3 separate regions of the Homo sapiens genome follow, and regions 1 and 3 are each linked to region 2. Evidence: fine-mapped expression QTL. A gene starts in region 2. Each other region holds a variant in brackets. All regions are shown on one strand. Distances are from middle to middle. Region 1 overlaps SLC9A3 (solute carrier family 9 member A3). Region 2 holds the start of AHRR (aryl hydrocarbon receptor repressor). Region 3 holds the start of SLC9A3-AS1 (SLC9A3 antisense RNA 1).

Region 1 (8,168 bases), 180 kb before region 2:
CACCCCCCAGTCACTCTCCCCCCGTGGTCACTCCCCACCCCCCCACAGTCACTCTCCCCTCTGTGGTCACTCTCCACCCCCCACAGTCACTCTCCCCCTTCCATGGTCACTCCCCACCCCCCCACAGTCACTCTCACCTCCGTGGTCACTCCCCACCCCACCCCCCCAGTCACTCTCCCCCCGTGGTCACTCCCCACCCCCCCACAGTCACTCTCCCCTCTGTGGTCACTCTCCACCCCCCAACAGTCACTCTCCCCCTTCCATGGTCACTCCCCACCCTCCTACAGTCACTCTTCACCCCGCGGTCACTCCCCACCCCCCAACAGTCACTCTCCCCCTTCCATGGTCACTCCCCACCCCCCTACAGTCACTCTCCCCTCTCCGTGGTCACTCCCCACCCTCCTACAGTCACTCTTCACCCCGTGGTCACTCCCCACCCCCCCACAGTCACTCTCCCCCCCCCATGGTCACTCTCCCCCACCCCCCTCGATGGTCACCCCCCAGCACACATCCAGATGCTCCTCCCACAGCAGCCTCCCTCCCTTAAGAGCCTCTGAAGCTAAAAATGGAGGAGGATGCTGTTTCTCATTTGTCCAGGTCTCCAGCCACCCGGGATTCCATCCCCTCATTCTGTTAAAGGGGTCACTGCGTCCACGCTGTTCTGAGGCCTTTTCCCATTTGCACAGGGAAAGCAGGGGAGGGGTGGCAGCTGCTGGCCCCTGCTTCTCAGCACTGGGCTCTGTGTGGCGCCCACGTGGCCACTGTGCCCTGCAGGCGTCTGCTGCTCTTCCAGGCACAGGCGTCCGGGTCTGGGAGCCACTTTGCTAGCCGAGGTGTGAGCCCCCGCTGTATGCCACTCAACCAGCCGCACCCCTGCCCTCCCCTTCTGAGCCTCTGGCCCGGCCCCCATGAAGGGGCCATGTCGGTGGCCGGCCAGGAGCTGGGCACGAACACCCCTTCCCCTTCAGCCCCCACGTTTAGAGACAGTGGCCTCACAGCGCTGAGGGGTGCAGGTCCCGGTGCCCATGGCCCCAGAGGGAGGCACTGCCCAGCAGCTGAGGGTTTGTCTGCTGTCCCCACCCCGAGCCCTCTGGGCTCACCCGGGGGTGACAGGAGGAGGCAGCGGGGCCGTGAGCCCGGGGAGCCTGAGATCTGGCCGCTTGCTGTGTGGTCTGAAGGTCCCGGCACCCTCCCTGGCTGCCGCCGCCGGACACACTGGAGGAGGCTGTGGAGTTCTCTCCCGAGGGCCAAATCCAACGGCCCCTGCAGCGGCTCAAGGTTCAGCCAGTCCTGGACCCTGCATGTCCACCGCCCTGGGCCCTGGCTGCAGCCCCGGGGGGCTATTTCCTCACTTTACAGAGGGGAGCCTGAAGCAAGGAGGGCAGGTCACACCTCCTGGGTGGGTCACGGGACGCGGGGGCTGCAAGAACACGGGGAGACGTGTGCCCCTTGGGTTCCCGGGGGTTCCGGAGCTGGCGGCAGCCCCACAGCGATGCCTTCCGGCACCTTCCCTCCCCAGGCGCCTCATATAGGACGCTGTCTCCTTGCTGGAAGCTTCTGCAGAAGCTTGTTCCCTTCCCTTGTTTAGTTGTTGATAAACCAAAGGCAAAAACACGGGGAATGCTAAACTTCCGTGATTGATGAAGACGGTTTCATAATTTCTACTTTGAAGTGAATGATTTTATAAGGGCAAGAGAGAAGAGAGGGTGAAGTGTGAGGAAGGTGGGGGTGGGTGGGACCCTGAGAATCCAGGCACCGGGTGAAGATGGGAACCCCCCAAGAGCTCTGGGGGCCCAGTCTTCTGTCCAGAGGCCCCAGCCTCGCGCAGACGATTCGCCGATTCAGGAGAAACCACAGCCGTGGATGAGATTTCCAGCAGACACGCCTTCCTTGCCCATTTCATGGAACAAGAAGAAAGTTCTTTATTGGTAACTCACACACATTATACAGATGGAAAGATTCTCCATTTGTTTTTGATTTTCAGCAGTCTGACTGTGCCGTGCCCACAGGCAGGATTTTCCCTGTACTTGCATTGCTTGGAGCTTGCAAAATTTCTCAAATCTATAAATGTGTGTCTTTCACCAAACTGGGGACATTTTTTACCATTCGCTCTTCAAGGTTTCCCCGCCCCATTCTCCCTTCCTTCCAGAGCTCCAGCTACACATATATCAGGCCTTTTTCTGGGCAAGGATGGGGGCCTCGCTCACTGTCACCCAGACTGGGGTGCAGCCTCAACCCGCCCAGGCTCAATGGACCCTCTGGCCTCAGCCCCCTGAGTAGCTGGGACTATGGGCACAAACCACCAGGCTCAGCTAATGTTTTAATTTATTTTGTCGAGAAGGGGTTTTGCTGTGTTGCCCAGGCTGGTCTTGAACTCCTGGGTTCAAGCGATCCTCCTGCCTTGGCCTCCCAAAGTGCTGCGGCTACAAGCTATTGATTTTGCCCCACAGGCCACTGAGGCTCTGGTTACTTTAAAAACCATTTTTTCTCCTTGGTCTTCCGATGGGATGATTTCTTCTGATCTGTCTTCCAGTTCACTCTCTTTACTGTCATTTCTGTCTGCTCGTAAGTCTATCCATTGAGTTTTTATGTCAGAGATTCTAGGGTTTCTGCTTGGTTCTCTTTGATAAGTTCTATTTTAGGCATCAGCAAACTACAGCCCGTGGGCCGGCCACTGGTTGTTGTAAATAAAGTTTCACTGGAACGCCCATCTGTGTCGTTACAGCGGCTTTCGGCCTCAGTGGTAGTGAGTGGTAAAGTTTCACTGGAACACAGCGCCCATCTGTGTCGTTACGGCGGCTTTCGGCCTCACTGGTAGTGAGTGGTAAAGTTTCACTGGAACACAGCGCCCATCTGTGTCATTACGGCGGCTTTCGGCGCCCGTCTGTGTCGTTACAGCGGCTTTCGGCCTCACTGGTAGTGAGTGGTTATGAAGTGATCCTCCTGTTGGCAGCTTGCAGGACCTAAAATACTCACAATCTGCCTTTAAGAAAAAATGTGCCAAGCCCTGTTCCACTCCACCGCTGCGGCTTGTCCTTTTTAAGTGGTTATGAGAACGTTTCTTTTCTATCCTTGAGCTGCTGTTTTAGGCCCTTGTCTGCTGATTCCAGGGTCTGACCATCTTGCGTTCTCCTCTGATTTGAGCTGGGCCACATTCCCACTTCACGTGTCTCGTGACTTCCGTTGCCCCAGGACGTTGCGACCGGTGTCTTGCCGGGGACTGTGCTCCGCTGCGGCCCCTGGTAGGCGCCGCTGGGTCTGCGGTAGCTGAAGCTTGTTGCTGCT[T/G]TGAGCAAAGCCCTGAGGTGGTGGCAGCTGGGATCTGCATCCAGGTCTTTCCTCTGCTGTGGGCAGCTTGGGACCTGCCTGTGTCTGTCTGTTCTCACGCTGCTAATAAGGGGGCCTGGGCCGTCTCTGGGGGTGGGGGGCCGGAGCGGCTGGGTCCCAGAGAGGAAGGGGTGTGGGGTCTGCCCAGCGTCCTGGACAGAGGCCGTGGCTGGCTCAGAGGCTGCGTTCATTTTGCCCCAGCGCGGTTGCTCAGGGTGGTTTGGAGTCGAAGGATCTCCTGATTCTCTAGGGAACCGTGGGCAACATTCATGTTTCAATTTAAAAACCGACCAGGTTTGCTCGAGTGTTGTAAATGTACAATGTGTAAAACGCCTTGTGACTTGAGCGCAGGGAGTCCAGTCCTGAACGGGCTGTTGTTCTTGGAGCTGTGTGAACTTCATCTGGCAGGAAGCAGCTTCCCGGCCCGGGGGCCCGGCCTCGCTCGGAGAGGGGCTTCCTGCGTGGCCCCCGGGAGCCGGCTCCCCTGTCCCACGCCAACCTGAGTACTCACGGGGAACTGCACCCGCAGGCAGGGACGCGTGGGGTCACGCAGGCACGTCTGCCAGGCCGCACGGCGGACCTCCGTGAGCACCTTTACCTCCGCCCTGGGCTTGACGGCCGACACATTTACCGTGATTCCTCGCCGGTGCCCCACAGGCGGGTAAAGTGATACTGAGGTCAGAGTGTGCTGGCGAGCTCTGCTGGACCTGCAGGGGCGGGTGGCAGAGAACTCAGACCCACAGCTGTGCTAGGAGAACAGGGTGGACCCTGTGCGTGTCTCCTCTGTGTGTCTCTGCACGTCTCTGCGTCTCTGCGAGTCTCTGTGTGCGTGCACGTGTTCCTGCATGTGTCTGCGCCTGCCTGTGGAATGCCCCGGCCCCTCGTCCCCCGGGAGGGTGGGTACCTGTGCTTCCGCCCTCCTTCCTGGCCTCACCGCCCCACCGCTCAGCCAGGCTGTTTCTGGGAGGCAGAGTTTAATCCTCCGGGACGTGTTCCTGTTAAAGTAAAACCACAGGATTGACTGCGCTGTTGCATTTTTGTGGACTCGGCTGAATCTCTGCCACCTTGAAAGGTCCTTGGAGGTGGCGGAGGCCCTGGGCCTGACCAAGCCCCGTCCCTCTGTGCTCCGAGGGGTGTGACATGCATTGGGCCGTGGCCTTCCTGAGCCCCCCGGGGCCCAGAGAGAAGCCCTTTCCGGCGCCCATCCGGAAATGTCTGGTTTGCCAGCGCCGGCCCTTCCTCCTCCAGGCACAGGGTTTGTAATTAGAACTAAAAGCGTCTGTCCCCTGTCGTAACCATCAGGCCACCAAGCCATTGTGTGCTTAATTAGCTGTGACTCTCCAGCCTCGGCAATCAGTTACCTGAGGGCCTGCGTGTCCCCAGGTTTGTCCCCTTGTGTGGAAGCCACACGGGCTGTGGCAGGCGGACTCAGGGCCTGGCCCTGTCCACACCGGCCCGTGTCCACACCAGCCTCGTCCACACCGACCCCATGTCCACACTGACTCTGTGTCCACACTGGCCCCATCCACACCAGCCCCGTCCACACCCACCAGCCCCATCCACGCCTGCCCCATCCACACCAGCCCCTTCCACACTGACCCCATGTCCACACTGGCCCTGTGTCCACACTGACCCCGTCCACACCAGCCCCGTCCACACCCACCAGCCCCATCCACACTGGCCCCATCCACACGGCCCCATCCACACCAGCCCCATCCATACTAGCCCCATGTCCACACCAGCCCCATCCACGCCTGCCCCATCCACACCGGCCCCTTCCACACTGACCCCATGTCCACACCGGCCCTGTGTCCACACTGACCCATCCACACCAGCCCCTCCCACACCAGCCCCGTCCACACTGGCCCCATCTACACTGGCCCCGTGTCCACACCGGCCCCCTGTCCACACCGGCCCGCCTGGCCTCTCCGTGCTTGGTGTGTGTTTCCTGTGTCCCTGGAGGGTCCCGTCCCCGTCTCCTGCCACCCCCCCTTCCATTCTCGCCAGGGATCCACGCCAGTCGCATGCCGTGTGTGCACCTAGCTGGGGGAGCCTCGTGGCGTGTCCCAGTGGTGCCGGAAGCCGGTTCCGTCTGTGGAGCTTCTCGTGGTTTGGCTTCTGCAGTTGTGTGGCTGAGCCCAGGCTCTGCATAGTGCGTCTCGGGAGGGTCCCACACCGCCTGGTTCCCTCACAGTGTGTGCCATGGGGCGAGTTCTATTCTCTTCATTTCCTTAAGGCCTCAGACACCCTCTGCCCTTTCAACCCACAGGGCCGGGGTTGCCGCAGTCAGTGCGGTGGACCTGAGGCTCTTCTGGTAGAAGGTTGAAGATGTCGCTGCCTGTTGCGTCCCAGCCACCCTGCAGCTCCTGCCCAACAGCTCTGGGCCGAGGAGGCTGTGCCCTGCGCCTGTGGTGGCTCCGACGGGGCCCAGGGCTGTGGGTTCCTTCTTCTTTGAGGTGCAGTGGCCCCTCCACACTCCCATGGTATCTCTGTAGCCATGCTGGCTTGAGCAGTGGCCCCTACAGAGGGGCTGGACCCTGGACTGGGAGTGGCTGGGCCTTCTGCTGATCTACGGAGACGTTATGCGCAGATGCAAGGTCTCTAGGAGCCACCTTGGCATTATCTCGGGCCCTGCCAGCCACCTCCCTCCCGTTCTAGAGCCTCGAGGGCCCACGTGTCCCCAGGGAGCAGGAGTGACTGGTTGTCAGACCAGAGGGAGCTGCAGACGGCATCAGGCACTGGGCGGTGTCTGGAGATGGCGGACAGAGGGCACAGGAAGGAAGGACGGCCCAGCATGTGGGGACGTTTCCACACAGGGACCCTGGAACCCAAGTGTCGTCATCCCATCCTAAAAACGTGCAGATTGTGGCAGTAAGTAAGCGCCTTGCCTGGAATGAGTCTGTGGAACAGGCCCTAACCACAGGCCCAGGCCTGGTTGGTGCCGGCAGATGCCCCCAGAAAGCGGGGTGGCCCCGGCTGTGTGCATGTGGACAGCACTGCCCGGGTCAGGCCCTCATGCCAGGCCAGTCCCTGGCACTCAATACCGACTGGCAGCAGGAACTGGACCCTGCAGGGCTCACAGCACAGGGACTTGGCTCCCAAACGTCCATTGTGTGCTTAATTGCCAAACTACTAGCAAATTGCCTCTTAAAACCAATTGAGTTCTTGGTTTCACCAGCTAATTACAATGCAGACTGCCGTTCAAGAGGAGGCCATGGGTCCTTGGGAAAAGCCGTGTGGAGCAGACCAGCCCCAGGCTGAGGACGCCCTCTGAGGACTTCCATCAACCGCAGAGCCCCTGGTTTCAGGAGAAGATGAGAACGAGACCCTTCCCCTCTCTTGGTCCCCAGTCCAGTGTCCCAAACCAGGGAGATGCAGGGTCACCAAGGAGAGGCCTGGCCTTGGCACCTCCTCAGGAGGAAGAAGCAGAAGCCCAGGAGACCCCCCACCCTGGCTGGGGCGAAACTGCCATCCGATACCAGAGGAGACGCTGCAGGACTCCTCTGCCACAGGAGAATGGGTAGAAAGCAGTGTCCCACCCAAAGCCAGCTCAGCAGGGAGACACACCCCAGGAGAGGCAGCCGAGGCCAGCAGGGGCACTCTTCCCAAAGCGGGGTTGTGCAGAGAATGTCCACAGAACCTTCCACGGCGGGCACAAGCAAGGGGAGAAGACACGGTTGGCCAGGCACGGTGGCTCACGCCTGTGATCCCAGCACTGTGGACGACCGAGGTGGGCGTGTCGCTTGACCCCAGGAGTTTAAGACCAGCCTGGCCAGCATGGTGAAACTCCATCTCTACAAAAAATACAAAAATTTGCTGGGCATGGTGGCGCACGCCTGTAATCCCAGCTACTCAGAGGCTGAGGCAGGAGAATCGCTTGAACCCAGGAGGCGGAGGTTGCAGTGAGCCGAGGTGGTGCCGCTGCACTCCAGTCCAGGTGACAGAACGAGATGATGTCTCAAAAGAAAAGGGCTCAGTGGCTGGACTGATGCTGGAAGGCAGGAAGTGGGGCTGGCGGGGAAGAGCCCAGCCCGGGACAAGTGTGACAAGAAGCAGAAGGAGTCCCGCCCGTACCTCACACCACGGAAATGGCCGGAATGTGAGTCACGGAAGCAGCAGCTCCAGGGTGGGAAGTGGAACGGGGGCGTTCATCGTGAGGACGTTCACAGAGAAGACACGGTTGGCAGCACCCCTCAGCGTCGGACCGAGACGTGGCCCCGAAGTAGCAGGGGCGGAAGTGGCGGCCGAGGCTCAAGCCACTGTCAGAGCGAAAGGTCCGAGAGACGTCCAGGAGTGCGGAGAAAAAAGATAAGATAGAGCGACCAGAGGCAAAACAGCATCCTTGAAGAGGAGGGCGGTGGCCGAGGCAGGAGGCCGGCATCCGTGAGGCAGGGACTCCCACAAGCGAGGCTAAGGCTTCATAGCTGACCAGCAGGTGCCTGAGTTGTCGGAGGGCAGAGGCTGGGGATGCGGCCGGGCGACCCCACCCGGGACAGGGGCAGAGGCTGGGGATGCGGCCGGGCGACCCCACCCGGGACAGGGGCAGAGGCTGGGGATGCGGCCGGGCGACCCCACCCGGGACAGGGGCAGAGGCTGGGGATGCGGCCGGGCGACCCCACCCGGGACAGGGGCAGAGGCTGGGGATGCGGCCGGGCGACCCCACCCAGGACAGGGGCAGATGAGGCTTCACTCCCAGGGGTCAGGGTCAGCGGCTCAGGGGGGCTGCAGGGGATCTGGAAGCTTCAGGAAGCTTCTTTGAAGTGGAGGAATAACCAAAGAATAGAACAATTGTGTTAAGAGATATCCTTGTTTCCTGGTTGGAAACAATTTATTCTGACAACCAG
Region 2 (8,168 bases):
GAATGTTAAGAAAGAAAGCAAATGGCAGATTGGAGCAGGGACAGATGCCGGTGGGTGGGTGGAGGTGGTGCGGAGGGTGGGACGGATGCTTCGGAAGGGTCCAGCCCTCCCCCCGAGGTGCTGTGGGATGCCCAGCCTCGTCTCCATCATGGTCACGTGTCTGGCCCAGTGCACTTCTCCCAGAAACCAGGTTGGGCACTTGGTGGCTGGAGGCCAGCCTGCAAGGACATCCCATCAGAACTGCAAGGCCTTTCGACTCAAACAGGAAACTCCCAAGCCGCACCCAAGCCTGGCCCCAGTCTGGTGGGGAGAACAGGCCAGAGACGGTTCCCAGCACCCCAAGGTGGGCCGGGCATAGAGCAAACCCACTCGACCACCCCTTGAGGTCAAGGAAGGTAAAGGGGATAGGGTGACCTACACCAGCCCCAGAAGACCCTGAGCCCAGGCACCACCAGCCTGACCAACCCTCGTCCCCAAATGAGTGCAGAGCCACAGGGCAAGAGCGGGTCGGGGGGTGGTGGGACAGCTGGGAAGATGAAGCGGGGCAGGGGATGTTGTCAGAGGTGGGGCTAGTGCAGATCCTTCTTGTCCCCAAAATCCCAAACTCCCTTCCGAGTAGCCGGAATTGAGACGGAAGCCTCGTTGCCCTCCTCAGCCTCACATACCAGTGACTACTCGCCCTGCAACGCCTGGGCAAAGCCACGTTCTCCCAGGTGTCTCCAGCTCAGTGCTGTGGAACGGTTCTAAAATCAAGGGTTCTGGTAAAAATCACCAGAAGCAGATAAATATTCCCTGTGGGCGGTGTGGGGGAGGGGCCCCGAGGAAATCCAAGGAGCTGGCCTGCCTACCCCCTCCCCACAGCCAGTGCCCCCTGAATAACCAGTTTTGGGTTTTTCGTTTTTTGTTTTTGTTTTTTTGAGACGGAGTTTCACTCTTGTTGCCCAGGCTGGAGTGCAATGGTGTGACTTTGGCTCACCACAACCTCCACCTCCCAGGTTCAAGCAATTCTCCTGCCTCAGCCTCTCGAGTAGCTGGGATTACAGGCATAGGCCACCACACCCGGCTAATTTTTGTATTTTTTTAAGTAAAGACAGGATTTCTCCATGTTGGTCAGGCTGGTCTCGAACTCCCGACCTCAGGTGATCCACCCGCCTCAGCCTCCCAAGGTGCTGGGATTATAGGTGTGAGCCACCACACCTGGCCCAGTTTCAGGTTTTGCTTGTGCCTCAGTTCTTTTTTTTTTTAATTTTTTTATATAAATGAATATATTTTTATTAAAAAAAAAATTCCAAGTGGAAGCACCTTTGGCTATAACTCATCGCATTGAAACAGCTAGGCGGCTGGGCGTGGTGGCTCATGTCTGTAATCCCAGCACTTTGGGAGGCCGAGGTGGGGAGAGCATGACGTCAGGAGTTCGAGACCAGCCTGGCCAACATTTAGTAGAGACAGTGAAACCCTGTCTCTACCAAAAATACAAAAATTAGCCAAGTGTGGTGGCTCACACCTGTAGTCCCAGCTACTTGGGAGGCTGAGGCAGGAGAATTGCTTGAACCTGGGAGGCAGAGGTTGCAGTGAGCCAAGAAAGCGCCATTGCACTCCAGCCTGGGTGACAGAACAAGACTCTGTCTCGAAAGAAAAGGAAAGAAAGAGAGAGAGAGAGAAAGAGAGACAGAGAGAGAGAGAGAAAGAAAGAAAGAAAGAGAAAAAAAGAAAGGAAGGTAGGAAGGAAGGAGGGAAGGAAGAGCGAGCTAGGCAAGGTGTTTCAGGGCCGCCAAGTCTTTCCTACCCGAGTCATCAGCCCCTAGCAGATCGGCCTGTTCATTCCTGCCTGTCTGTGAGCCGACTCTCCTCCGCAAGGAGCTCCGTTGAGTCTCCTTCAATGCCTGATCACCCCAGACCACATGGCGCTTTCCCGCTTCTGTGTCGTATTAACCACTTAACACTGGTCAGGGCCACCCGGCGGCATCTCTCCAACTGCATTGCAAATGACGACGGCTGGAACCACAGCTGCCTCCCCCTCCCCCGGCGTCTCAGCACCCAGCACGGGTGAACGAGGTGGGAAGACCCTGTTAAGCCACAAGCCGTCTCCCTCTGATCACAAGGCCTGCTCCCGGGAACACCAGGCCACATGAAGGAGGGGCCTCACAGTTGCAGGAAATAAATAATTTGGCACAAGGATCAAGATAAAGTAGTTTGAGAAACAGTTGCTGATAATACTTTAGAGAAAAGCCTCGCGGAGTTCAGGTGGTCACCTGAGCATATCTGAACTTCCTGGCCCTACTGGCAGAGATGCGAGGGGGTGGCAGGGAAGTGTGTCTCAGTTCTTGCCATACCTAGCCTAAATACAGGAGGAGGGATGCTATTACAATAGGTTGTTCCATTTTACAAAATACTCATGAACTCACCTCAACAGATGGAGCCTCCTTTGGACTGGACCAAACTCCCCACAGAAATGCCCCTGTGAGGCAAGACTCAGCTGTCCCCGGCCTCCTGACGGCAGCGTTCTTCTCTGCCTGGGACACAGGTCGAAGCTGCCTCATAGGTAATTGGGGGACAGGGGAGGACCCTACCCACTGCAGCCAGGGGCTCAGCCGGGGACCACGGGTGGGGCCTCGACAGACTCCTGGGTGCTGCTCACGGGCAGGTCCCACACGGGACAGAGGGGTCGGCCAGGGCCATCTGGGGCCTCCCAACCCCACCAGGCTGTGAGCTGACAGCACTCCTCTGAGAAATCTGAATTTTTCTAAGAACCTTTCTCCCGTGGTAAAACTCGTGTCTGTTCATTTTAGAGAATACAGATAAGTAAGAAAACGAAAATAAAAGCCGTTCCCCAGGCGGTGGCGTCCCCCCCGTCGAAGCGGCTCCCCAGGCGGCGGCGTCCGCCGGGTCAGCATCCTACGTTCTCCAGTTCTTGTTACTCGTGGCTTTTCAGCGACTCTGGGGCCGCATCGAGCCCCGGCTTTGTGCGGGATGGGTATGGCACACTCGGCCCGAGTCCAAACGCCGCCAGTCACTTGCTCTGAGAGGCTGGATGAGCGACCTACCTTGATGTCCTCGTTCGTAAAATGGGTGACGGTTGCCAGGCCGGGGCGGCTGTGAGGCCCCGTGGGGGTGGCGTTTGGAGAACGCGCGCACACGCCCACCCTTCTGCAAGAACCCCGCAGACGAGAGCCTGTGCGCGCGCACAGGAGGCCCAGGGAGGAAGCCCCTCCCCGCCTGCCCTTGCCATCCCGGAGGCCACAGCCGGACAGGCCCGTGGGACAGGCCCGTGGGACGCTTCTGCACAAGGTCTCTGACCTCCGGCCTCGCAGAAGAGGTCAGAGGGTGGCCCCTGCCTGTCACGCGCCCATGGCGACCCCTCCCCAGAAGGGGTCCCAGCGTGGACTCCAGGCGCCACATCGCTCTCTCAGGGCATCCGGTCTGGGAATTCTGGCCGCTCAAAATAAGACTTCAGCGCTACTGGGTGCTACTGAAACCAAGCCTGAACATGGGCCTTTCCCGGGGGTGAGGCCCCCCGGACCTGGCGCCCTCGGCCCGACAGCGGGGCCCCGCTCCGCCGCCCGCACCCGCCCAGCCCCAGGGAGCGCGGCCCGCACGGAACGCCCGGGGAGTGAAGGCTCAGAACACTCTCGAGGGGACGCTGAGGACCACGAACCGTGGACGCGCCGCGGCTTCCCTCCGAGGTCCGAGTTTTAAGTGAGACCAGCCAGCCGCACCCCAGAGTGTCCGCCCCGTCCCGGGGCCGCCGGGCCTGGCGACGCGAGGATGCGGCGTGAGGAGGGTCCCGACGCCGGCGCCCGTCCCTCAGCCCCACACCCGGGAGCGCATCCCGTCTCCACCGCGGGCGGCACGCGGCGGGGGCCTGCGGGGGCGCCCAGGACACTTACCCAGGGCCTGCGGGGCGCGGAGGCTCAGGCACACCCGCGGGGCAGCGCGCCCTGGCCAGGAGCTGTGGCGGCGGGTGCCGGCGCTCGCATCCCGGGAACCCGCGGCGGCTCCAGGGACTGCCCCACCCCGGCACGCGAGCCGCCCGCCCCGCCCCGCAGCATCCAGGGCCGGGAGGCGGCAGAGGGCGCCCGCGGGTCCGGCTGTCTCGGGTCCGGCTGCCCCAGCTGCCCTGGCGAACCGGAGACGCCATCCGGTTCCCCTGGGGTCCGCCCTGCGCCCTTCGCGTCCCAGTGATCCCCCGGAGTCTCCGTGCCCCGAGGCGGGGGTCGCGCGCTGAGCCCCTCCAGGCCCTGCGTTCCCCCTGGGGTCTGTGTGCGCCCAGGGTCCCCCGGTTCTCCCTGCGCCCCCGTCCCCTCCCCAGCGCTCGCGGCCGGCTGTGCTGAGCTGCCGGCCCTAGAGCCGGGCGGTGTAGACCCGAACAGGTAAAGTGAGGAGAGCGTGTGCCCCCTCGCCTGCCCCATGAGGTCGTTTCGAAAATGTAAAAGGAGTCATGGTTTTTGGCGAATTATAGAGAATATTAAGATGCTTTTGGATCCTGAGCTTCCCAGGAAGCGGACGCGCGCCAGGCACGGCAGGGTCGTCCGTGCGACGTTCTTCGTCCTGGGCATTTCAGGGTCCCACGCGGCAGGTGTGCGGCCCTGGGTGCCCCTGCCCCGCCCACCCCGCCGGTCGGCACCCGGGACCGCGCGGCCGAGAGCAGGGTCCTGCCTGCAGGTCCTTAGGGCTCACCCCGCGCCCTCTGCGCGCCCGCCGGCCCCTCCGACCTCGGGCTGCGCCTTCTCCTTCCCCCTCCCGGTGGTCCTTGGCCCCCTCTAGTCCTCCGTCCGGGCGCGCAGGCCCTGGCTGAATTCCCTGTACCCTCAGGGGATCCCTGGGGACACCTCAGCCTGGCCTCGCACCCTGACGTCTCCACAGACCCTGGCCGGCTTCCACCCGTTCTCGCCCTCGCTGGGGCCGGCCATGGAGTCGGTGGTCCCTGGAGTCCGCTCCTCAGCATCCGCGGTCCTCATCCCAGCCGGGGGAACCGCGCCCTCTTCATCCCGCAAGGTCGGTTTTCAGCAACGCGGCCGAGGCTGTCACTGGCGCCCCCAGGTTCTCAGTCAAACCCCGTCTCCCTGACGCCCCCAACCCGCCCCGCGCCTCCTGCTGTTCTCTGAATAAGGCGTGCGGGCCTTGGGGCCTTTGCACTCGCTGTCTGCTGTCGGCTCAGGAAAAGTCTCTTTTCCAGACACAGCTCCCAAGGTGGGGTGGGCGCAGCTGAGAAGCCCACCCTGCCCCCAAGTGGCCACCGCCCCTCCCCGGGTGTAGCTCCTGCAGGGCAGCCCAGAATTGCTGAGTTCTGCCGCTCTGTCCCCAGGGGTCACCAAGTCGGCTCTGCTCACCTCTGGTTCCTGTCGAATAGCAGAGGCTCAAAAATGTGAGCTGAGTAAATGGGCTTTTTTGGGACAGAGTCTTGCTTTGTCACCCAGGCCTGAGAGCAGTGGTGCGATCTCAGTTCACTGCAGCCTCTGCCTCCAGGGCTCAAGCGATTCTCGTGCCTCAGCCTCCCAAGTAGCTGGGATTACAGTCGCGCGCCACCACACCTGGCTAATTTTTTTTTTTTTTTAAGTAGATAGTGGTTTTGCCATCTTGGCCAGGCTGGTCTCGAACTCCTGACCTCAGGTGATCCACCCACCTCGGCTTGCCAAAGTGTTGGGATTACAGGCATGAGCCACTATGCCACTGAGACAGCCAGGAGCCCTGGGTGCACACATTTATTTTTTGATATGGAACAATGTGCAACTATATTGCTGTATTTTTAAAAATCATTAGTTTTATCTTGATCCAATTTTTGTAAAGTGAATTATGCACAGAAAATGTGTAGCTGGATAACTCTGAGGTAACAGGTGAACTTTAATTTCTTTTTACTTTTTGAAAAGTCTACAATTCCTGTAAATTTTTGCAAGAAGCACATAGTACCTTTGTGATCTGTTAAAATAAGAACCTGTGGGTAGAATGTGATGGTGGTGAGCCGCAGTCCCCCTGCATGGGAAGACAGCACCCCCATGTCTCAGGGCAAGCACGGGTTCCCTTCCACCTACCCTGTCCCACCAGAACCAACTGGAATGAGACACTTTGTTACTCTATTTCCTGGGTACAGAAGGAAACTGCTCCTCCTTCCTTCCCACTGCCCTTGACCGGCACAGGCCATCCACGCCCACCTGTCCCCTGTGCTTGTCCCCAAAGTCTCAGGTCTCTGCAGGACCTGGGGCAGCCAGTGGGACTGTGCAGAAAAAGGATGACCCTGCCGTGGGAGCCACTGCCCCTAAAGTCTCAGGGTTTAGCAGGCAGAGCCCCACGTGGAGTCCTGGAGTCTCTGGGCACCCCACCAGCACAATGGGGGATCCCTGAGCCACCTCCCGTTCAGACGGGCTATTGGGCGTGCCTCCCTCCCCACCACGAAGGTCCAGATGCAGCTGACACCCCCAGTCACAGAGTCTCCTTTCTGCCTCTGTGCTGGGGACCCTGTTCAGGAGGTCTCCTCCCTCCAGTCCGGACTTGCTGTCCCCAGTGTCATTGAACCCTCTGGCTCCCACCCACACTCCCAGCAGCTGGAGACACACCCCTTTCTCCTGGGCCACTGGTCCTCTCGGGACTCTGAACCAGAGGCGCTAACACCTGGCAGGGATGGCAGCTGGGGCAGGACTGGAAGCCTCCGAGGACCCACCCCCAGCTCCGGGTACCCCCACACTGGAGTCTGGTGCGGTGGGTCCCCAGAGCCATATGAGCTGGACTTGGCCTCCAGTGGACCGCCACATGGCAGGTGCCCACGGCCGGCTGCAGCGCCAGGCCCCTCCCAAACAGGCCCAAGTTGGCTTCACAGAAGTGTGGGGGCAAAGCTGCTCTTCATGGGCCTCCAGGAGTGGTGACTGTGACTGCCCCCTCCTGTCCTCTCCTGGCCACACCTTTGCCTCCCACAGGCAGGCCAGGTCAGGAGCCCCCAGGGCCCTGACCTCAGAGGCAGACAGGGGTGTGCTGACCCCTCGGGCCAGGCCAGGACCCCGCACAGGCGCCTGCGGCTCTCTGGCTCTCTGATGGCGGCTGGGTTTCCCGGGTTCCCCGGGTTCCCCATGACTGCTGTGTCTCCAGCGTTGATGCCTCACAGGGAGCCGCTTGGGCAGCCCTGGTCACGCCTGGGTTCCCTCTCTCTCCCACACCAGTTTCTCCCTGGTCACGCCTGGGTTCCCTCTCCCACACCAGTTTCTCCTGTAGCACAGAGAAGGACCTGGGGAATTTTGTCTTTTGTTAAAAACCACAAGGGAGCTCCCTGCTGGGCACAGTCACGGTGGCGCCCGTCAGAGCTGCTTCCAGGGTGCATTCCATCATTCCAAGTTCACTGTGCTGGAGTCAGCTCTCTGCTTGCCGCAGGGTGAGGGGGGGAGGTGGAGGGTGAGGGGGGAGGTGAAGGATTGGGGGAGGTGCAGGGTTGGGGGGAGATGCAGGGTGGGGGGAGGTAAAGGATGGGGGGAGGTGCAGGGTTGGGGGGAGATGCAGGGTGGGGGGAAATAAAGGATGGGGGGAGGTGCAGGGTTGGGGGGAGATGCAGGGTGGGAGGGAGGTAAAAGATGGGGAGAGGTGCAGGGTAAGGGTGGGAGGTGCAGGGTGCGGGGGGGAGGTGGAGGGTGAGGGGGGAGATGAAGGGAGGGGGGAGGTGAAGGATTGGGGGAGGGAAAGGATGGGGGGAGGTGCCAGGTGAGGAGGGAGGTGAAGGATGTGGGGAGGTGCAGGGTTGGGGGGAGATGCAGGGTTGGGAGTAGGTGGAGGGTGAAGGGGGGAGGTACAGGATGGGGGGAGGTGCAGGGTGAGGGGCAGGTGCAAGGTGAGAGGGGAGTTGAAGGGTTGTTGGGGGAGGTGCAGGGTTGTGGCGGGGAGGTGCAGGGTGGCTGTTGGGGGAGGTGCAGGGTTGTCCGGGGAGGTGTAGGGTTGTGGGGGGAGATCAGGGTAGGGAGGGTGGGGAGGCATGGGCCAGGGGCCCCAGGTGAGGGTGTACGGCGTGCACCTGCACCTCCATGTCTGCACTGATGACTGAGGACCCAGAGCGGGGGGAAGGAGAGGCCCCCAGAGATGGCTGTGCCCCCATGTCCTGCTGTCTTGGGTCTTGGGACCGGGGTCGTGACGCTGAGGGTCCCTGGTGGGTGGTCGTGGCCGCTGGCCTGGCCTGGCCTCCGCGACCCAGCCTC
Region 3 (8,168 bases), 160 kb before region 2:
GTGCTGCGGAAAGGAGTTGGCGGCAGCAGTTGGGGCCACCGAGTGAGGGGACAGGAGCTGAATTCTCTGTGCTCCTTCCAGGGAATAGAGATGCCCTCTCATGTGGCCCAATTAATTCCAAATTGTTATGTAGGAATTGAAAATAAGGCAAATAGATTATTTCCTCCACGTCATAAACAGGGTTAGTATCAGTCAACATTTAAAATGATTTTGTCTGGCAGGGCTCAAGCCTGTAATCCCAGCACTTTGGGAGACTGAGGTGGTCAGCTCACTTGAGGTCAGGAGTTTGAGACCAGCCTAGCCAACATGGTGAAACCCCGTCTCTACTAAAAATACAAACATTAGCCAGGGGTGGTGGCGTGGGCCTGTAATCCCAGCTACTCAGGAGGCTAAGGCACAAGAATCGCTTGAACCCGGGAGGTGGAGGCTGCGGTGAGCCGAGATTGCGCCATTACATTCCAGCCTGGTGACAGAGCGAGACTTCGTCCCAAAATAAAAAAAAGAGTTTGTCCATTAAGGTGAAATCACCTATGTTTTATTATAAAAAACATGTGACACTTATAATAAACCCAGTAAGGAGCACATACAATTTGCCCTGGGTTCCCATTTTCTGAGCGATCTGTGTTTGCTTGGGGTGGAGGCACCGGGAGGTGTGGCCACGTGGCTTCATAAAGCTCAGCTGCGGTTCTCCGTGGCCACAGTGACTCTGCTCCGGGTACCCAGTCCCCGACTCCTTGGCCTCCCAGGGGCCATCCCGGGGGTCTCGGAAGGCACAGCCTCGGTTAGCTTTGACTTCTTGGTGTGGCTGAAACTCAGCCTGTACAGGAGAGCTGCCATTGCTGCCGCGGGGCCTGCCCAGGTGTGAGCACACAAGCTCACCCGGGCCCACCCTGTGCCCTGGAGGGCGGCTCTGGCGGCTGCACCCATGTCCAAGTGACAGGCATCACCTCCTTGTGCCCCAGAGTTTCCTCTAAGTCCGGCCAGGCCACCGTCCCTTCTGATCTGGATAACCAGCGAATACTCTAATTCCGTTAGGCTAAAAAAAACCTCACTCTGGTCAGCTTGGCTCCCACAAGTCTAAGGGCTCAGGGTGTCTGTCCGCCCCTGCCCTTCCTCCTGTGCACCTGAAGGTGCCCCCCATGTGGCCAAAGCCCCCTTGCCTGACCAGGCCTGACACCCACCGTGTCCTGAGCCACCCTCTGGAGGAGGCGGCATGCAGTTTCATATGCGTCTAACGGCCTCCATCCAACAGGACAGGCGGGAGAACGGCGGACGGCCTGGGCGTGTGGCAGGGGCTGCTTCCCTCATTTTAAACGCGCCTACAGGGTCACTATAGCAAACAAAATTCAGGAGAGAAGGGGCCGGGCCACGCGTCCGGCGGGCTCTAGGGCGCCTGTCACCTGAGGCTCACACCCAAGGTCTGTCCCTACAGGTGGTCCCACTTCGACAGGAAGTTCCTCAGCAGGGTCCTCATGAGACGGTCGGCCCAGAAGTCTCGAGACCGGATCCTGAATGTCTTCCACGAGCTGAACCTGAAGGATGCCATCAGCTACGTGGCTGAGGTAGCAGAGCCGCTTGCTCTGCCGGGTCGGGGCTGCAGCAGGCTCTGGCACTGGCTGTGGGTGCCATGGGGCAGTGAGGAGAGGCCCCTGCACCCGCGTCCCAAGGCCAGGCCCACCCCAGCAGTTCACGGGAGGCTGATGGGCCTTCTGATGCCCTGGGAATCCCAGGGGCTCTCGTGGGGTAAACTGAGTCACAGAGTCCTGGTGACTGTGGTGCTGGTGGGGGTGAGCGCTGAGGTCAGGTCCTAGGACCCCGAGCTCCCTTGCTTTCCCCAGGGATGGGAGCAGACGGTAAGCAGGCAGGCTGTTACGGGACCTGGTCCCAATACAGCCCTGCCTGCCCCAGCACACGCAGGTGCCCACAGGTGCACACGCACAGGCAGAGGGGCAGCAGCAGGGCCGTCTCCCGCTGTGGGCCGGCCATGGCTCTGAGGCTGCTCCAGCATCTCCCAGTCCACTATGAGCAGGCCTCTCAGCGTCTGCAGAGCCCCTGACTGCTCCAGAGACCAGAGGCCAGGCGCCCCACCCAGCCCCGAGGCCACTGCCGCCCTGGCTCCCGCACCTGCCCACTATGGCAGGTGGGCCTCAGCCTCCCCGGCCTGCCCTGACCTCCCCAGGGGCGCCCTGGCTGCAGGAAGTGTGCAAGGCAGGGCCTGGGGGCACAGCTGCAGGGATTCCGCAGCTCCTCCCTAAGGACAGAGCCCTCCCTAGCGAGCTTTGGTGCCCTCATCCAGCAGCCGGTCAGGGTGGGTGCTCTCGCCGGAGAGAAAGACCTGTCCTGCCAAACCCTGCAGACCCTCACACAGAGGGCCAGTGGGGGCCTGGAAACTCCATTCATTCAGACAGAATGATTCTGCCTCCACTGACGTGCATTCACCCCAGATGTGCCACCCGTGACTGGGGCCATGCCAAGTGGCAAGGCACCTCCTGGCAGAGGGCACGGGGGCCTGGGGCTGTCAGGAGGGCCAGCCAGTGCAGATCAGGAAGGAGGGCTCCTGGACCAGGCTCCACACAAACCCCCAAACCACAGGCCCGGCAAGCGAGAGAAAGCTCAGATACTCTGGCCCTAGGAGGCCTGGAGCCTGGCTGGAGGGTGGGAAGGGACAGTGGGGGCTCTGGCCTCTGGCGGGCTCCCCTCACCCCCACATAGGTGACAAGGTTGGCAGGCGGGCCTTGAGCCTCTCCCCCAACCACACCAGCCACCATCCTTGACCCACGACCCACGACCACAACCCTGGGCTCAGCTGCATGTGGGGAGCCTGTGGGCTCCTCCCGGCCACTCAGTAGCGGGGGTCCCCACACCTGGGGTGGCATCTGCCTGCCCAGTGTCCCTCCTGGCTCTCACCCAGGGCGGCTGCTTTCTCTCCCTGCGCCCCCCCACCCCACGGCAGGGCTCGGCAGGGGCAGGGGAAGTGGTGTGGGGAGCAGCCCCTCCGAAGACCCCACGTGCCCGGGTGCTGCACAGCCCTCGCCTGTGCCCGCCCAGAGTGGCAGTTAGCACCGTGGCTCCCCTGACCCTCACGTCTGTCTTCGTGGGGTGGCAGGAGCGGGACAAAGGTCATACAGAAGATGCTGGATTTAGAAGCAAAAGAGCAGGCGGAGGGCCCTCAGAACCAATGACCCTCAAATCCCCCCCGAGTGGGCAGTGAACTGGGGGCCGCATCTTCAGTGGGAACAGCGGCACCCACCTGACCCCGGGGGCTTCCCTGGGAGCATCCTGCACACTGAAGGCGGCACGGGTGCCCACCTGGCGAGGTCTGAGTGCAGTGAGCTGACGTTCCCTCCACACCCGTGCCCCTGCCGGCCCTGGGGACCCTGACTCCAGCCATAAGCCCACTCTGCCCTGTGCTCCTGCACAACCTCATGCTCTCCAGGCCCTGCCATCAGGCGGGTGGGGTCTGAGGACACATAGGCGGCCCCACTTCCATCCTCTGGCACTCAGCTGTGTGGCTTCTGTGCCCCATCGGGCTCTGCTCCGTTCTCTACCTGATTCAGTTCTGGACATGAGGCCAATGGAGTTTTAGGGTCTCCTGCAGGGACAGAGACCACTTCAATGATTCTGCAGTATCAACACTTTCCCCAGACACATCCCAAGTCCCAGGCAGCTTTACCCCTTCACACTCAGACCACTGTGTCCTCCCACAAGCATGACCTCTGCCCAGTTCAGGCAGCAGCCTGGCTGTGGCCTCAGACGGACAGGGGCTCAAAATCTGATCTCCTGGTTTTGGCATTTCCACCCCTCCCTCTGCAGCTGTGAGGCGTGAACCCGGGGCTCAGGTCTCAAGGCTTTCCCCGGGCCCCGAGCTCTGGGCGCTTCCCCCCAGGGCACACAATGGCAGCAGCTAGGGCTTGGCTGCTCAGGCCACTGACCGGGCTGCTTCCTGACCACAGGGAGAGCGCCGCGGGTCCCTGGCCTTCATCCGCTCCCCCAGCACCGACAACGTGGTCAACGTGGACTTCACGCCACGATCGTCCACCGTGGAGGCCTCTGTCTCCTACCTCCTGTATGTGGCCATGGTCATGCAGCTTCCCTGGGGAAGAGCCCAGCCTCGGGAGCTGAGAGTCACAGACAGGGCTGTGGTGGCTCCTGGCCTGGGGGTGGCATGGAAGAGGGGAGAGGTGCAGAAAGAGGGGGTGGGTGTCTCCTTCCACAAGCCCTCCTATATTAGGCCGTGGCCAGACTCCCTTAGTGCTGGATGGAAGGTGAAAGGGAGGGGCAGCAGCGGACTGGGGGCCAGGCCTGACGTGTTTGCCCCTGGCCCGCAGCAGCCTGTCCTGGTCCCCATGCCACCCTTACTGCTCCTCCGGCCCTGGGCTCCACAGCTCACAGCCAGTTCTCATAGGAGGTCCACTCTGCCAGATGTGCAGATGCTGGGGTCCCCGAGTCTTACAGCCAGGGCTTTGGAGAGGGACCAGTAAGGAAAGGGACCCACTTCAGACAGGAGGCCAGGAAGGCCTCGTGGGGAGTCAGCCTAAGCCCCGAGGGGAGAAGGGGCTGGCCAGATGGCAGATGTCCCCGTGCCCCAGCCGGGTGCCCACCATGGGAAGGCGAGGGGCACGCAGGAGGCAGCCAGGGCCAGATGCC[C/T]GCCGTGGGAAGGCGAGGGGCGCGCAAGAGACCCCACCCTGAGGGAGCCTGTATGGCTCAGCGCTGGTCCCCACGCAGGAGAGAAAATGTCAGCGCTGTCTGCCTGGACATGCAGTCTCTGGAGCAGCGACGGCGGAGCATCCGGGACGCGGAGGACATGGTCACGCACCACACGCTACAGCAGTACCTGTACAAGCCGCGGCAGGAGGTGGGCACTGCGGGCTGGGGGCTGGAGGACCCCGCAGGGACCCCGTGGGGCGGCTTCCTCGTCCCCTCCTGGGACCACGGGGGATCCGTGCTCAGCTCCTGCGGCAGGAGGGCGAGAATGTCCGGCGGTGGGCACAGCTGTGACCTCCGTGCCTGATCCCGCAGTACAAGCATCTGTACAGCCGACACGAGCTCACGCCCACGGAGGACGAGAAACAGGACCGGGAAATCTTCCACAGGACCATGCGGAAGCGCCTGGAGTCCTTCAAGTCGACCAAGCTGGGGCTCAACCAGAACAAGAAGGCGGCCAAGCTGTACAAGCGGGAGCGTGCCCAGAAGCGGGTAAGGCTGGGTCACCAGGAGGCTTGGCGGGGCTGGGGCCTGGAGCGGGGGCAGTCAGGGCTGGGTGTGGCTGTGTCGGGGTGTGAGCAGCTTCACGTTTGCTCCGCAGAGAAACAGCAGCATCCCCAATGGGAAGCTGCCCATGGAGAGCCCTGCGCAGAATTTCACCATCAAGGAGAAAGGTGCGCTGGGGGCCCTGCAGGAACGCTGGGACTGGGAGCCACCACCTCCCAGCCCCAGCCCTCCCGGCTCGGGAACCTCCCCTCTCAGGACCTTCCCCTCTGGGGACCCTCCAGCCACCCAGGCAGGGGAGGCATGGTCAGGGCCCCAGCTGCAGACCCACCCAGGATGGGGTTCCAGGGACACTGCCCTCTAAGTGGGGTCCCTCCTCCAGCCCTGCGGTTTAGCCCTCCTCTCTGTGGGTCCCGACTGCCTGCACCTCTGTGCACAGAGCTGATGGACACTGCTGACTGGGCTGTGAGGACAGCCCCCCAGTGACCCCAGTCCTCACCCCAACCTGTCTTCCCCAGACTTGGAACTTTCAGACACCGAGGAGCCCCCCAACTATGATGAGGAGATGAGTGGGGGGATCGAGTTCCTGGCTAGTGTCACCAAGGACACAGCGTCCGACTCCCCTGCAGGTGGGGACGGGGCACAGGCGTCGTGGCTAAGGGAGGGGTGGCTCCTGCCGCCCCAGGAGGGAGCTCGGTCATTGGACCAGGGGCACTGGGACCTGGGGGGGTGGGGTCTCCTGTGGGTTCTCAAGGGCCCTGCTTGGCACCCACTGAGTGCCCCCTCAACCAACTCGGAGGCTGCTGTCCGGGGAGACGTGGGCCGGGCAGGGAGCAGGTGGGGTATGTCTTGAGGGAAGCGAGACGTTACCTGTGCTGCCTGTGGCGTGTGGGGTCATGGATGTGGGGGAAGGGCCCGCAACCTGAAAGGCACGTGACCCTAACCTTCCCGGTGACCCTAACTTTCCAAGGCACCCAGCAGGTGACGGCCCCGGCGAGGTCTCCCCTGCCGCCGTGGGGCTCTCCGAAGGCTGACTAGCCGCTGCCCTCTCTCCTAGGAATTGACAACCCTGTGTTTTCTCCGGACGAGGCCCTGGACCGCAGCCTCCTGGCCAGGCTGCCGCCCTGGCTGTCTCCCGGGGAGACGGTGGTCCCCTCGCAGAGGGCCCGCACGCAGATTCCCTACTCTCCCGGCACCTTCTGCCGCCTGATGCCCTTCCGCCTCAGCAGCAAGTCCGTGGACTCCTTCCTGCAGGCAGACGGCCCCGAGGAGCGGCCCCCCGCCGCCCTCCCCGAGTCCACACACATGTAACGCTCCCGGGCCTCCCGCCGCCTAACCCCTCTCCGCAGCTCCTCTCCCTCCAGGTCTCCGCCTCGCGCGCGCTGTCTCTCTCCCTCCCCGCCTAACCCCTCTCCGCAGCTCCTCTCCCTCCAGGTCTCCGCCTCGCGCGCGCTGTCTCTCTCCTCCCTGGACCTGAACCTGGCTCGCTCTCTCTCTCCCCGCCTAACCCCTCTCCGCAGCTCCTCTCCCTCCAGGTCTCCGCCTCGCGCGCGCTGTCTCTCTCCTCCCTGGACCTGAACCTGGCTCTCTCCCTCCCCGCCTAACCCCTCTCCGCAGCTCCTCTCCCTCCAGGTCTCCGCCTCGCGCGCGCTGTCTCTCTCCTCCCTGGACCTGAACCTGGCTCGCTCTCTCTCTCTCCCCGCCTAACCCCTCTCCGCAGCTCCTCTCCTCCAGGTCTCCGCCTCGCGCGCGCTGTCTCTCTCCTCCCTGGACCTGAACCTGGTTCTCTCTCTCCCTCCCCGCCTAACCCCTCTCCGCAGCTCCTCTCCCTCCAGGTCTCCGCCTCGCGCGCGCTGTCTCTCTCCTCCCTGGACCTGAACCTGGCTCGCTCTCTCTCTCTCCCCGCCTAACCCCTCTCCGCAGCTCCTCTCCTCCAGGTCTCCGCCTCGCGCGCGCTGTCTCTCTCCTCCCTGGACCGGAACCTGGTTCTCTCTCTCCCTCCCCGCCTAACCCCTCTCCGCAGCTCCTCTCCCTCCAGGTCTCCGCCTCGCGCGCTCGCTCTCTCTCCTCCCTGGACCTGAACCTGGCGCGCTCTCTCTCTCCAGCAGCCCCTCTTCCTCCTCTAGCGCCCTGCTGGCCGCACCTCCCTCAGGAGCCCGGACAGAGATACTCTGGCGTCTCTGCTGCTCCCACGGAGCTGAGGGCACTAGGGCCGCCTGAGATTTCCTTTAGGTGGCTCCGAAAGCTAGTCCGCGAGTCCAAATCCTGCGCTCCCAGGGAGCTGAGAGCAGGGCTGGGGGAAGCCAGACAGACGCCCCGGGTCCCCGACCCTCTCACAGGGATACAGGGAGGGCCGGCCCCGCAGACCCGGACTCTGCCTCCAGCTCAGAGCAGGGAGAGGGGCGGGCCGTGGGGTCTGGGCTTTCTGAGCTCCCTCTGGGGGCCTGGGAGGCACCCGGGGGACGCCAGGGCGGTTTGAGATGGAGGAAGCAGGTCCCCTTGGGGACCTTGACCTCCCGCGCTGCAGGGCCTGGGGCGGGACCTTCCTGCGCCGAGGAGGCCGCTGTCCCGGGACCCCCGGCGGGGGGACGTGGCGGGGCCGGGCTGGGGCTTCGCTGTTGCTGCTTCCGCCTCTGCCCCGCGAACCCGGGTCCTGGGAGGAGGCCCCAGCGGACGCCGAGCCTGGGGTGCGCCGCGGGAGGGGAGGCGAGAGCCGCCGGGCTCGGGGACAGCTGAGGCCCCCGGGGACGCCCCTCCCGCCCCAGCGCCCGGGCTCCGCGCGCCGCTCACGCCTTCCTCTCCCGCAGGTGACACCGGCTCCGACACGCCGCTAACCGGCCGCTCGTCCCCGCGCCACGGTCCGCCCACCGCCGCCGCCGCTGTCCCAGAGAAACCCCAGATCCCCGCGCGGCTACAGCGACCGCGAGCCCCGAGCCCCGCCTCGCCCACGCCAGCGCCTG

The links. PIP is the estimated chance that this variant, and not a neighbour inherited with it, causes the effect.
Region 1: its variant is fine-mapped to the expression of AHRR in whole blood (TOPMed, PIP above 0.99).
Region 3: its variant is fine-mapped to the expression of AHRR in whole blood (TOPMed, PIP above 0.99).

The regions. Positions count from the first base shown.
Region 1 is chr5:497,537-505,704 of GRCh38, reverse strand. The region is part of intron 1 of SLC9A3 (solute carrier family 9 member A3); the gene reads left to right. Among named protein-coding and RNA genes, the nearest start is that of SLC9A3, 23 kb to the left of the region's middle. The variant T/G (reference allele first, on the strand shown) is at 3,286.
Region 2 is chr5:317,539-325,706 of GRCh38, reverse strand. AHRR (aryl hydrocarbon receptor repressor) reads right to left here and starts at 3,993. Exons shown (of 11, transcript NM_001377236.1): 1 at 3,888-3,993. The region is part of intron 3 of PDCD6-AHRR (PDCD6-AHRR readthrough (NMD candidate)); the gene reads right to left. RefSeq lists enhancers at 2,982-3,101, 3,190-3,757, 6,891-7,190 and silencers at 3,342-3,401, 3,412-3,791, 3,882-4,371, 4,522-4,781.
Region 3 is chr5:473,230-481,397 of GRCh38, reverse strand. SLC9A3 (solute carrier family 9 member A3) reads left to right here. Exons shown (of 17, transcript NM_004174.4): 10 at 1,433-1,562; 11 at 3,954-4,066; 12 at 4,726-4,855; 13 at 5,020-5,196; 14 at 5,306-5,378; 15 at 5,727-5,837; 16 at 6,266-6,515; 17 at 8,016-8,168. The coding sequence ends at 8,019. SLC9A3-AS1 (SLC9A3 antisense RNA 1) reads right to left here and starts at 8,162. Exons shown (of 7, transcript NR_125375.1): 1 at 7,999-8,162; 2 at 6,079-6,261; 3 at 4,835-5,166; 4 at 4,062-4,154; 5 at 3,549-3,592; 6 at 1,182-1,616; 7 at 506-1,036. RefSeq lists enhancers at 3,065-3,234, 5,630-6,270 and a silencer at 7,455-8,168. The variant C/T (reference allele first, on the strand shown) is at 4,648.